3 linked regions of the Homo sapiens genome follow. The protein of the gene in region 3 purifies or fractionates together with the protein of the main gene of each other region. This does not show direct contact. Each region holds a gene or a part of one and is shown on either strand. Other genes may lie near its edges. The genes, in order: ILF2, STAU1 and DHX9.

Evidence for each region.
Region 1: the proteins of DHX9 (region 3) and ILF2 fractionate together in Homo sapiens (co-fractionation; 5 studies listed by BioGRID and IntAct, with this or other methods). This does not show direct contact.
Region 2: the proteins of DHX9 (region 3) and STAU1 purify together in Homo sapiens (affinity purification with mass spectrometry; 6 studies listed by BioGRID and IntAct, with this or other methods). This does not show direct contact.

The regions. Positions count from the first base shown.
Region 1 is NC_000001.11:153,664,370-153,668,114, reverse strand, and holds part of ILF2 (interleukin enhancer-binding factor 2), read left to right. Parts: intron 1-37; coding exon 38-115; intron 116-457; coding exon 458-560; intron 561-2,386; coding exon 2,387-2,452; intron 2,453-2,778; coding exon 2,779-2,895; intron 2,896-3,640; coding exon 3,641-3,719; intron 3,720-3,745. UniProt on the Homo sapiens protein: Chromatin-interacting protein that forms a stable heterodimer with interleukin enhancer-binding factor 3/ILF3 and plays a role in several biological processes including transcription, innate immunity or cell growth.
Region 2 is NC_000020.11:49,186,748-49,190,492, forward strand, and holds the start of STAU1 (double-stranded RNA-binding protein Staufen homolog 1), read right to left. Parts: upstream 1,588-3,745; 5' UTR 1,369-1,587; intron 215-1,368; exon of another isoform or gene 1-214. UniProt on the Homo sapiens protein: Binds double-stranded RNA (regardless of the sequence) and tubulin.
Region 3 is NC_000001.11:182,837,403-182,841,147, reverse strand, and holds the start of DHX9 (ATP-dependent RNA helicase A), read right to left. Parts: upstream 1,802-3,745; 5' UTR 1,692-1,801; exon of another isoform or gene 1,557-1,691; intron 1-1,556. UniProt on the Homo sapiens protein: Multifunctional ATP-dependent nucleic acid helicase that unwinds DNA and RNA in a 3' to 5' direction and that plays important roles in many processes, such as DNA replication, transcriptional activation, post-transcriptional RNA regulation, mRNA translation and RNA-mediated gene silencing.

The sequences.
Region 1 (3,745 bases), about 29 Mb from region 3:
TTTTCATTTTCAAGTATTGTTTCATACTGTTTTTCAGGCATCTATCCTTTCTCTGGTGACAAAAATAAACAATGTGATTGATAATCTGATTGTGGCTCCAGGGACATTTGAAGTGGTGAGTTTTTGATGATTTAGTTTTAGGAAAGGGCAGCTTTGGTAGTGTGGAAATTGCCTTGGCTCTTGACTTTTAATTTTCAGTTGTCTATTATCCAAAGCCAAGCCTAAAATGAGAAAGTACAGTGGAATTTCTTTGTAGTACTGATCTTGGGGACAAGACTTGTATCATTGTTATGCTAGCTGTGATGTATCAGGCTTTCATGTGGTGGTTTTGGGGGTGATTTCACCTCTGCTACTTCTTAATTTGGGTAACAGGTAGCTGTGTTGTAACAGTTCTGGGAGGACCTAGGCACCTTTTTTTCTTCTAAATTGTTTTTCCCCGAAATCCTTTTTCCAACAGCAAATTGAAGAAGTTCGACAGGTGGGATCCTATAAAAAGGGGACAATGACTACAGGACACAATGTGGCTGACCTGGTGGTGATACTCAAGATTCTGCCAACGTGTGAGTGTGCCTGTTTCTGGTCATGGGAACAGAACATAGCACTTGGATTAGGGGTTTAGGTATCTTTTTTTGTTTTGAGACAAATTCTCCCTCCGTTGGCCAGGCTGGAGTGCAGTGGTACCATTGTAGCTCACTGCAGCCTTGACCTCCACTACAGCAAGTGATCTTCCCGCCTTAGCCTCCCGAGTAGCTGGGACTACAGATGTGTGCTACCACACCCAGCTAATTTTTGTATTTTTTGTAGATACAGGGTTTCACCGTGTTGCTCGGGCTGGTCTCAAACTCCTGAGCTCAAGCAATCTGCCCACCTCAGCCTCCCAAAGTGCTGGGATTACAGGCGTGAGCCACTGTGCCCAGCCCTTACGGATCTTGAAAGCTCAAATTTCTTGTGAGAAAGGATGTTTGTAAGACAAATGTTTCTAGTTTTTGTTTTTGAGACGGATCTCACTCTGTTGCCCTGGCTGGAGTGTAATGGCGTGATCTCGGTTCACTGCAACCTCCACCTCCTGGGTTCTAGCTGTTTTCCTGCCTTGGCCTCCCAAGTAGCTGGGATTACAGGCAAGTGCCACCATGCCAGGCTAATTTTTCTATTTTTAGTAGAGACGGGGTTTCACCATGTTAGCTAGTCTGGTCTCAAACTCCTGACCTCAGGTGATCCGCCCGCCTTGGCCTCCCAAAGTGTTGGGATTACAGGCGTGAGCCACTGCACCCTGCCTGACAAATGTTTTTTAATGAGTGATAAGGGACAAACGCTGGAGTGTGTGTGTCTGAAAGAATGTATAGCAGGTTACTGTACGGCCATGTTTCTCAACTGGAGGTAATTTTGCCACCCAGGGGATATCTGGCAGTATCTGGCGGTACTTTTGATTGTTAAAACAAGGGGGTGCTACTGGCATCAAAAAAGGGTAGAAGCCAGGTGTGGTGGCTGTATTCCCAGCACTTTGGGAGGCTGAGGCAAGAGGATCACTTGACCCCAGGAGTTTGACCAGCCTGTATAACATAGAGAGATCCTGTACCTACAAAAAGAAAAAAATTAGCTGGGCATGGTGGTGCATGCTTTGGTCCCAGCTACTCAGAAGCCTGAGGTGGGGCCGGGTGCAGTGGCTCACGCCTGTAATCCCAACACTTAGGGAGGCCAAGGCCTGGAGTTCAAGACCAGCCTGGCCAACGTGGCAAAACCCAGTCTCTACCAAAAATATAAAAATTAGCCAGGCGTGGTGGTGGGCGTCTGTAATCCCCACTACTTGGGAGGCTGAGGCAGGAGAGTTGCTTGAACCTGGGAGGCAGAGGTTGGAGTTAGCAGAGATCGTGCCAGTGCACTTCAGCTTGGGTGACAGAGTGAGGCCCTGTCTCAAAAATAAGAAAAAAAGAAAAAAAAAGCAGCAGCCTGAGGTGAGAGGATTGCTTGAGCCCGGGAGGCTGAGGCTGCAGTGAGCTGTGATTGTGCCACTGCACTGCAGCCTGGGTGACAAGAGTGAGACCCTTTCTCAAAAAAAGAAAAAGGATAGAGGCCGTGGATGCTGTTAAACATCCTACATCCCCATCACCCCAAAGATTTGTCTAGCCCAAAATGTTATTAACTGCCACTGACCTGAAAAACCCTGCTGTAGAAAGAGGATATGAGTACAGGAGGGGTCCTGTTCCCTGAGTCTTCCAATTTTTCTGCCCAGGCCTTGGCTTTCTCTTATAAAAGTATATATTCTATTACTTACCCTTGCTTCAGCCTTGGATATGGGACAGAAATGAGAGTGCAAAGTAGCTTAGAGATACATAGAAAGTCTAGGCAAATAAATTATTATAACATTATGTCATTTTCTGTCAATTAGTGGAAGCTGTTGCTGCCCTGGGGAACAAAGTCGTGGAAAGCCTAAGAGCACAGGATCCTTCTGAAGGTTTGCATTTGTTGCTGATTCTGTATTTAGTAGCCATAGGAACCAGGTCTTGTAATTGTAAGTACACTTTCAACAAAATCAGATCAGACCAGATGGAAGAGTAAATGCAGAGTTTTATGTTGTGGGAGTTTTTGGCAGGGGCTTCAGGTGTTCAAGGTGTTCAAGGGAGATCTGTTTGATCTCCCTTCTAAAGCTCTGTATTCTAAATTCTCATTCTGGACTTTGTGCTGTTTTAAAAAATCCACCTGTTCCCCCCCACCCTGGATTTAACTTTGATCATCTAATGGAAATGTGAGTTATAGTTTTTGTTTATTCTGTTTTTTCAGTTTTAACCATGCTGACCAACGAAACTGGCTTTGAAATCAGTTCTTCTGATGCTACAGTGAAGATTCTCATTACAACAGTGCCACCCAATCTTCGAAAACTGGATCCAGAACTCCATTGTTAGTTCTTTTTTTTCCATTGCTGGAAAATTTAGGGGATATTCAAAACATGGTATTGTTGCTGTTTAGTTTACTTAGCTTGTTGCTATTCCACATGCAGCTTCCTGGGAATTGAAGAACTTAGGTTTATTCTGAACTTTGCTCTCTCCCTCTGTAATTTGGAAATAGTTTATCAGCTTGCTAGTGGAATTTTCAGATGGGGTGACCAAGAAAGCATTTGGAGGACTTAAAAAGGACTGAGAAAATATTTATGGAGGGGGATAGGCTTTTGAAGAAAACAGATCTTGCATGTTTCTAGTGATTTTTAGACAAGTGATTTGCTGATATGAGAAACACAGGGTGGCTTAAAGAATTGCAGAGTTGGTCGGGTGCGGTGGCTCACGCCTGTAATCCCAGCACTTTGGGAGGCTGAGGCAGGCAGATCACCTGAGGTCAGGAGTTGGAGACCATCCTGGCCAACATGATGAAACCCCGTCTCTACTAAAATAAAAAATTAGTGGGGCATGATGGCGGTTACCTGTAATCCCAGCTACTCAGGAGGCTGAGGCAGGAGAATTGCTCGAACCCGGGAGGCGGAGGTTGCAGTGAGCTGAGATCACGCCACTGTACGCAATCCAGCCTGGACAACAGAGCGAGACTCCGTCTATCCTGCCCTCCTTCCAAGTTTTTAAGACTGTAGCAGTGGTAATGAGTAGCTTGTTTAATGAAAATGTTTCATCCTGGCATATCATGCTTGTCTTTTTAGTGGATATCAAAGTATTGCAGAGTGCCTTAGCAGCCATCCGACATGCCCGCTGGTTCGAGGAAAATGCTTCTCAGTCCACGTGAGTCCCTCTCTAACCATTTGGAT
Region 2 (3,745 bases), on a different chromosome or scaffold from region 3:
TAGCAATGCAATTTACACTTGGTAAGCACGGATTCCTGAAACGCCAAAATCAACCGGGAACCTGATTTAACTCCACCACGCTCTTAACAATGAAAGCTACAAGCAGAAGAGAAGTGTGACCTTAAAAACTTCCACACAGCCGAAGAACAGTGGCAGAACAGACTGAAGCACGTATCTTCGCGGAACAGAAGAAAACTTCCACACAAGCAATACTGCAACACGGAGGCGGGGCAAGGGCTTAAAAGGAAAGTCAGCCAACAGGGAGGGGTGAATATAAGCAAAGCTTCCGTGAAAAAAAACTTATCGAGGTGTAGAGCAAGACAAGACAGACAAATTTTTCCATCTCCGTACACCCCCCTTCAGAGCCCAACACACAGCAAGTGCTCTAGATAGGTTTGCTCAACTCAAGGGAAGCTTCTGCCAGCAACTTTCCCAGAAATGGAATGACAAGAAGAAGCTGGATGATGGCGGGGCGGGGAGAAATGGACAGGTTGCTCATCCTGCGGGAGATGGTGAATATCCTGCAGTTGCCTAAGCGGAGATGGAAAGAAACAGCATCCATCGTTTACAGACTGTCAACTACAGTGTCCCAATTAAGCGTACGCCCCTTTCAGATGTTAACAACTGAAAACAATGCCCTGGCTCTGGACATGGGCACGCGGAACACTGCAGCCTCTAAGAAACCCAAACGGATAGGTAGGTCAACTTCTATCCACTCTGCCCATTAAATTATACCTTCATATCACGCTAATAAATTATGCAGACGGTTTACTGGGACACGCTGTGGGTCTGGCACTCTGATAAGCGCTTTACACGCCCCATTTCACTGAACCTTAAGAGGCAGGGACGGTATTAGCAGCCCCTTTTCCAACCAAGACACAAAGACTTTTTAAGTGTCTTGCCTAACGGGGCAGAGCCGGGTTCGGCACCCGTTTTGGACACCTGGGCCGTGCTCTTAACCACTAAGCTACAGACCTGGGCCGGCGACACTGAGAGGCTCCAGCCCTCGGGGACCTGAAGCAGGGACCCCCCCCCCCCCCCGCCTGCGCCCCAGCCCCGGGAATAACTTCGGCATCCCCGCGCGCGCCATGCGGGACGAGGAAAGGCGGCCGCAGCACCTGTTTGTGGCACCGGTGAGGGCTGGAGGGGATGGGGGCGCCCGGGGCCAGGCCTCAGGGCGCCCCGAGGCGAGGGAACGCAAGAGGACCCGCCTCCTCCGGGAAGGCCCCGCGGGCTAGAGAGAGGCCCGGGAGAAGGCGGAGGGGTGCGCGGGCCCGCCGAGGCCTAGGCCCCACCCGCCGCCCACCTCCCCACCGCGGCGGCGCCCGCGAGGGCCCCACCAGGCCCGGCCCGGCCCGGCCGCCTCACCTGGCTGCTGCTCCGAGCTCGTCCCCCGGCCGGCGGTCCTGGGCGGTGGCGGCGAGGAGGGGAAGGAAGAAGGAAAAAAGGGAGAGGAAGAAGGGACGAAGGGAGGGAAGAGGCGGAGTGGCCGTGGAGGAGGCGGGCGCCGCCGGGCCGGGGGGGGGAGGCGGTCAAAGGAAGCGGGAGCCGAGAGAGACGCGGCAGCCGCCGGCGCAAACGCTGAAGAGCCGCTCAGGCGCCCGCAGCCCGGCAGGAAGTGACGGGGGAGGGGCAGGCGCCCGCCCCCGGCCCCCGCCCGCCTCCAGGCCCGGCCCCGGCCCCACCCCCACCCACGGTCCGAACCACAAGTTCCGGCTGGCACTGCGGCGGAGCCTGCGCTCGCAAGGCACGCCGGGGGCCCAGCGGGAGGAGCGCCCTGTCCCGCCTGGACCGCAGCGGCCCGTCCTGAGTCCCGGGGCCTGCCGGGAGTTGTAGTTCTGGTGGGAGTTTCGCGCTGCCTGCTGGACTCGAAGCGGGTCTGGGAGAACCCAGCCTACCTTCTTTCCTCCTCCACTTCCTTTTTCCTTCCTTGCTGTCGCTTCTTCCTCTTGTCCTGCCTCTGGCCTTCCTTTCTCTCCTTCCTGCAGTTGTTTCTTCCTCCATCTGTAAATGTTCATTAAATGCTTGCCATATGCAAGGCATTGCTCCAAGAGCTAAGAATGTAGTGGTGAACTGACAAAAATCCCTGCCCTCGTGGAGCTTACATTCTTGTGTAAGTAAAATACACAATAAATAAAATTGAAAAATGTGTAGTGAGATAAAAGACAATGGCCCGGGCGCGTTGGCTCAGGCCTCTAATCCCGGCACTTTGGGAGGCCGAGGCGGGCGGATCACTAGGTCAAGAGATCGAGACCATCCTGGCTACCACGGTGAAACCCCCGTCTCTACTGAAAATACAAAAAATTAGCCGGGCGTGGTGGCGGGCGCCTGTAGGTAAACAGCTACTCGGGAGGCTGAGGCAGGAGAATCGCTTGAACCCGGGAGGCGGAGATTGCAGTGAGCTGAGATCGCGCCGCTGCACTCCAGCCTTGGCGACAAAGAGACACTGGTCTCAAAAAAAAAAAAAAAAAAAAAAAAAAAAAAAAAAAAAAAGACGAGAAGTGCCAGATTACTATTTATTTCACCCAGACCTAGATAAACTAAGTGGTTTTTAGCAGCTGTATTGTATGGGAGGTTGGAGAGAGGGTGGCCAGTAAAGAATCTTGGCCAGGCGCAGTGGCTCACGCCTGTAATCCCGGCACTTTGGGAGGCCGAGGTGGGCGGATCACCTGAGGTCAGGAGTTCGAGACCAGCCTGACTAACATGGTGAAACCCCGTCTCTACTAGCCGGATGCAGTGGTGGGCGCCTGTAATCACAGCTACTTGGGAGGCTGAGGCAGGAGAATCTCTTGAACCCGGGAGACGGAGGTTGCAGTGAGCCGAGATCACGCCATTGCACTCCAACCTGGGCAACAGAGTGAGACTCTGTCTCAAAAAAAAAAAAAAAAAAAAAAAGAATCTTGAACTTCTGCACACTCAGCGAAAATTATGCTCGCGTTGTGAGAGGTCCAAGAAACTGAGAATGAATGAAGGAACTGCAGGTGCACAGAGCTTCTCTCTCCCGCTCACTCTGGGACTGCCGCCCCACTATTTAAAAATAATTCTCTCTTTCTTAAATGTCTCTCAATCTAATAATTGCTCAATCTCTCTTGCCAACGGAATATAAATTCAAAATACGAGCTGCTGTGTCTGAAGAGGCCCCTCCAAACAAGGCTTTGGAGCCTTAGCGAAGCCTGGGAGGACACTTGCCTCCTTACATTGCTTCTTGTGAAGTGCAATGACACTGAATTTCAGAACACCAAAAATAGTCAAAGGACTTTCACCGTCCCTTTAGTGCCCATCCAAGACAGTAGTAAGCAACATTCAGATATTGTCCAGCCCTCTGCTAAAAGTGATCTTTTCTTTCTAACTTCCAAGCAGTGTGGATCCCATACCTCCTTGGGTAAAGGAGCAGATGCAGAGAGGTCTCCCTAAACCCAAAGCTGCGCACAATCAGACAATCTCGTCAAAGGTGATTTTGCTATCACCCATAGGGACAAAAGTGGTGGGTCTATGACTTCCAGTCTCAATTTTCTTCCCTCTTTCCTCCTTCCGCATCTTTTTTGTTTTTTTCTTGAGACAGGGTCTCGCTCTGTCACCTAACTAGAGTGCAGTGGCATGAGCACAGCTAACTGCAGCCTCAACCTCCTGAGCTCAAGAAATCCTCCTACCTCAGCCTCCTGAGTAGCTGGGACCACAGGCATGTGCCACCACTCCCAGCTAATTTTTTAATTTTTTATAGAGACAGGGTTTTACTAAGTTGCCC
Region 3 (3,745 bases):
AGCTAATTTTTTGTATTTTTAGTAGACACGGGGTTTCACCGTGTTGGCCAGGATGGTCTTGATCTCCTGACCTCTTGATCGGCCCGCCTCAACCTCCCGAAGTGCTGGATTACAGGCGTCAGCCACCGCGCCCGCCCGTCGTTTCTCTTTAAAGTCCAAAATTAAGTTCATCCAACTGTGGCACTAACTCACCCATTTGCATGCTAACTTGGCATCTCAGTCAAAACAGAATTTTAAATTTCCCCTCAAATCTGTTCCAACACCCTACCCCTACATTTCGGTTTCCATAAACGGTACGACATCCACCAAGTTACTCCTGGCACAAGTTGAGAGTCGTCCACTCCCTTAAGATTCTCCATAGCTATCCCTTGTAGAACCCTTAATGTGTGTCAAACAATATCCATAATAGATCATCTAAATGGAACTATTTTACTTAATCCTTAGTAACCTTGTACAGGTAAGATCACTATCCCTTTAGAGAAGGGGAAACTGAGACAAAGAATATCTTGCTTCAGGAAGACAGAGCTCCTAATTATAAGAGCAAGAATTCGGGCGGGCGCGGAGGCTCACGCCTGTAATCCCAGCACTTTGGTAGGCCAAGGCAGGCGGATCACGAGGTCGAGAGATCGAGACCATCCTGGCCAACATGATGAAACCCCGTCTCTACTAAAAATACAAAAATTAGCTGGGCGTGGTGGCGCGCGCCTGTAGTCCCAGCTACTCCGGAGGCTGAGGCAGGAGAATCACTTGAACCCGGGAGACCGACGTTGCTGTGAGCCGCCATCGCGCCACTGCACTCCAGTCTGGCGACAGAGCGAGACTCTTGCAAAAAAAAAAAAAAAAAAAAAGGCGCAAGAATTCCAGAAAACGTAGCCTGACTCCAGATCTACTACCTTCCACCACTACGCATTTCTGCTTCAAAATACGTCCCCTATCCATTCGTTTCTCCCCATCTCTCCTGCCACCACTACTGCACACCCGGGCTAGTGAAATATTGTCCTACACGGTTTTTGTTTCCACTCTTGCCACCCTAAAACCCATTCTCCTTTGAAGGCCTTCTCGCCACACTCCAGTCACATGGCCTGCTTTCAGCTCCCGCCCAGTTTCTGCCCTTAAGCGATAACTAATCCCTTCCGCTTCTGCAGGCTCTGCTTTTCCTTCGCGTTGGCCGAGGTTATCAGCTCAAAGCCTCCCTCCTTCGAGACGCCTTACCTCGCTATACTAGCCAAAGGCGCTCTCCCTTTACATTCTTCAATTTTTTTTCCTCTACCCACAAGGCCTGCACGACGGCGCCAGTTATTCGTGGCTTGAATGAATGAAGAGCCCTAGGCCAGTGGCGCCCCGGCGGCAACCACCACAGGCGAAGCACCCCCTTCCCTCAGCCGCCGCGGTGCCCCGGCGTACGCAGGCCAGAGGAGGAAGCGCGCTTTGCCTGCTAGAGGCAGCAGCGGGAAACGCTGGGCGGAGGAGAGGGGAGGGGGCCACAGGCTGCCCGGACGGCGCAAGCGCATCGCGGCGAGGCGCGCACGCAACCCGCAATCCGGGGACCCGCGGGCGGCTCGTCCCTTCCCCCACCCCCAGCCGCCGCCGCCGCCCGCGCTTCGCAACAAAGCCGGCTGCGGAGCCATGGTCCACGGCGCCCGCCCGCGACCCCGCCGCCCCGCATGGTAGCCGGAACGTCTCTCCCTTACCAGCCTTCGCTTCCTGGTGCCCAGCTCTTAGGACCGTGTGTGACTCTGGCCTTCTACCGAGACAACAGAGAAACGCACAGCAACTCGCATGGAGGAATCGGCGAAATGGCTCCGACCGCGGCGCTAGGGGGCGGGGCCAGCGAGCGTACGCATGCGCAGAGCGCGTGCCAGGGCGGGGGATGGCGAGGGCGCGCCAATGGAGGGGGCGGGGCTCAGCAACCTCGCGGCGCGGAAGGGTTTCGTTGCTAGGGAGATGGGCTGAGCCGGGCGGGCATCGCGCCAGACCTGCTACTCTGGATAATCCACTCTCCTGGATAATCCACTACCCTGGATAATCGGCTGCCCGCTTTTGCGCATGTTAGGGAGTTGACGGCCTGTAGCATTCTGATGCAGCAAAATATTTCGCAGGGTCTGTCATAGGGATCTCCGGTGAGAGGAGGTTCCCTTCGAAGGCAGAACTGGAAACCTTGCTGCTAACTTGGTAGGGTTGTTGAGATAATTACATGAGATGGCATATGAAGGGCGGCTTAGTTCAATACCTGGCATGTAGTAGGTGTTCAGTGGGCGTAGTTACCGGATTGATTCAGATAGTCTGAACGCCAGTGTCTCTTGAAAGAAATAAACTGGCCGGGCGTGGTGACTGTAATCCCAGCACTTTGGGAGGCCGAGGTGGGCGAATCACTTGGGGTCAGGAGTTTGAGACCAGCCTGGCCAGCGTGGTGAAACCCCGTTTCTACTAAAAAAAAAAAAAAAAATACAAAAATTAGCCGGGCATGGGGGCGGGCGCCTGCAATCCCAGCTGCTTGGGTGGCTGGGCGGGCTCCTGCAATCCCAGCTACTCGGGAGGCTGAGGCAGGAGAATCGCTTGAACCCCGGGGTCGGGGGCGGAGGCGGAGGTTGCAGTGGGCCGAGATCACGCCATTTTCTGGGCGAGAGAGCGAGACTCCGTCTCAAAAAAAAAAAAAAAAACCATGAAAGAAATAAGCTCAGTGAAGGCGGGCATTCTGCCTGGCTAACGCAGGTCGCTCCTTGCCGTGCCTGGAACATTACTGTAAGTGCTCAGCAAACTACTTTAAGGTAGGAATAAAATCTGCAAGGTTGCTTTTGTTTAAATTGGATAACCTTTTGTGTTCCAAGTCTTTGGAGTAATTTTGTGTTCCAAGTCTTTGGAATAATTGTGTCCTTAATTATTATACTAGTCACTGTTAAATTTTGAAACTCCAGTGCGTCCCATGAAGGTAATGATACAAAACATTTCCAGCTGGGATTGTTCCAGGGAATCCAGACTAATCAATTATCTGGGCTCATTATATCTATGGATCTTTATTTTTCACCTCTTTCCTTATGTTTTTCTTAATCCTTCTAGCTGATAGTGATCACTCCCTTTAAAACTGTCATTCTTAAAATCAGAACAACATAGTTTATCATTTACTTATTATTTTCTTCATGTGATTGTTCTCCTTAATTAAGAATAAAATCATTGAAGGAAAGACCTTAATTTTTTTTTTTTTGTACCCTTCAGGGTGTTGAAAGCAGCAGGGGCCTAGAAGACATTAAACCGATACCACAGAAATACAAAGGATCATTAGAGACTATTATGAACAACTATATGCCAACAAATTGGAAACCAAATGGAAATGGATAAATTCCTGAACAGATACAACTTACCAAAATTGGACCAAGAAGAAATAGAAAACCTGAAAAGACCAACTATGAGTAATGAGATTAAATCAGTAATATAGAGTCTCCCATCAAAGAAAAGTCCAGGCCCTGATGGCTTCACTGCTGAATTCTACTGAACAGTTAAAGAAGAACTCATACCAGTTCTCAAACTCATCCTGTGAGGGCAGCATTACCCTGATACCAAAACTAGATATGGACACAAGAAAAAAAATCTATAGGCCAGTATCCCTGATGAACATAGATGCAAGAATCCTCAACAAGACCAGGTGTGGTGGTTCATGCCTGTAATCCCAGCACTTTGGGAGGCCAAGGCAGGTGGATCACCTGAGGTCAGGAATTTGAGACCAGCCTGGCCAACATGGCAAAACCCT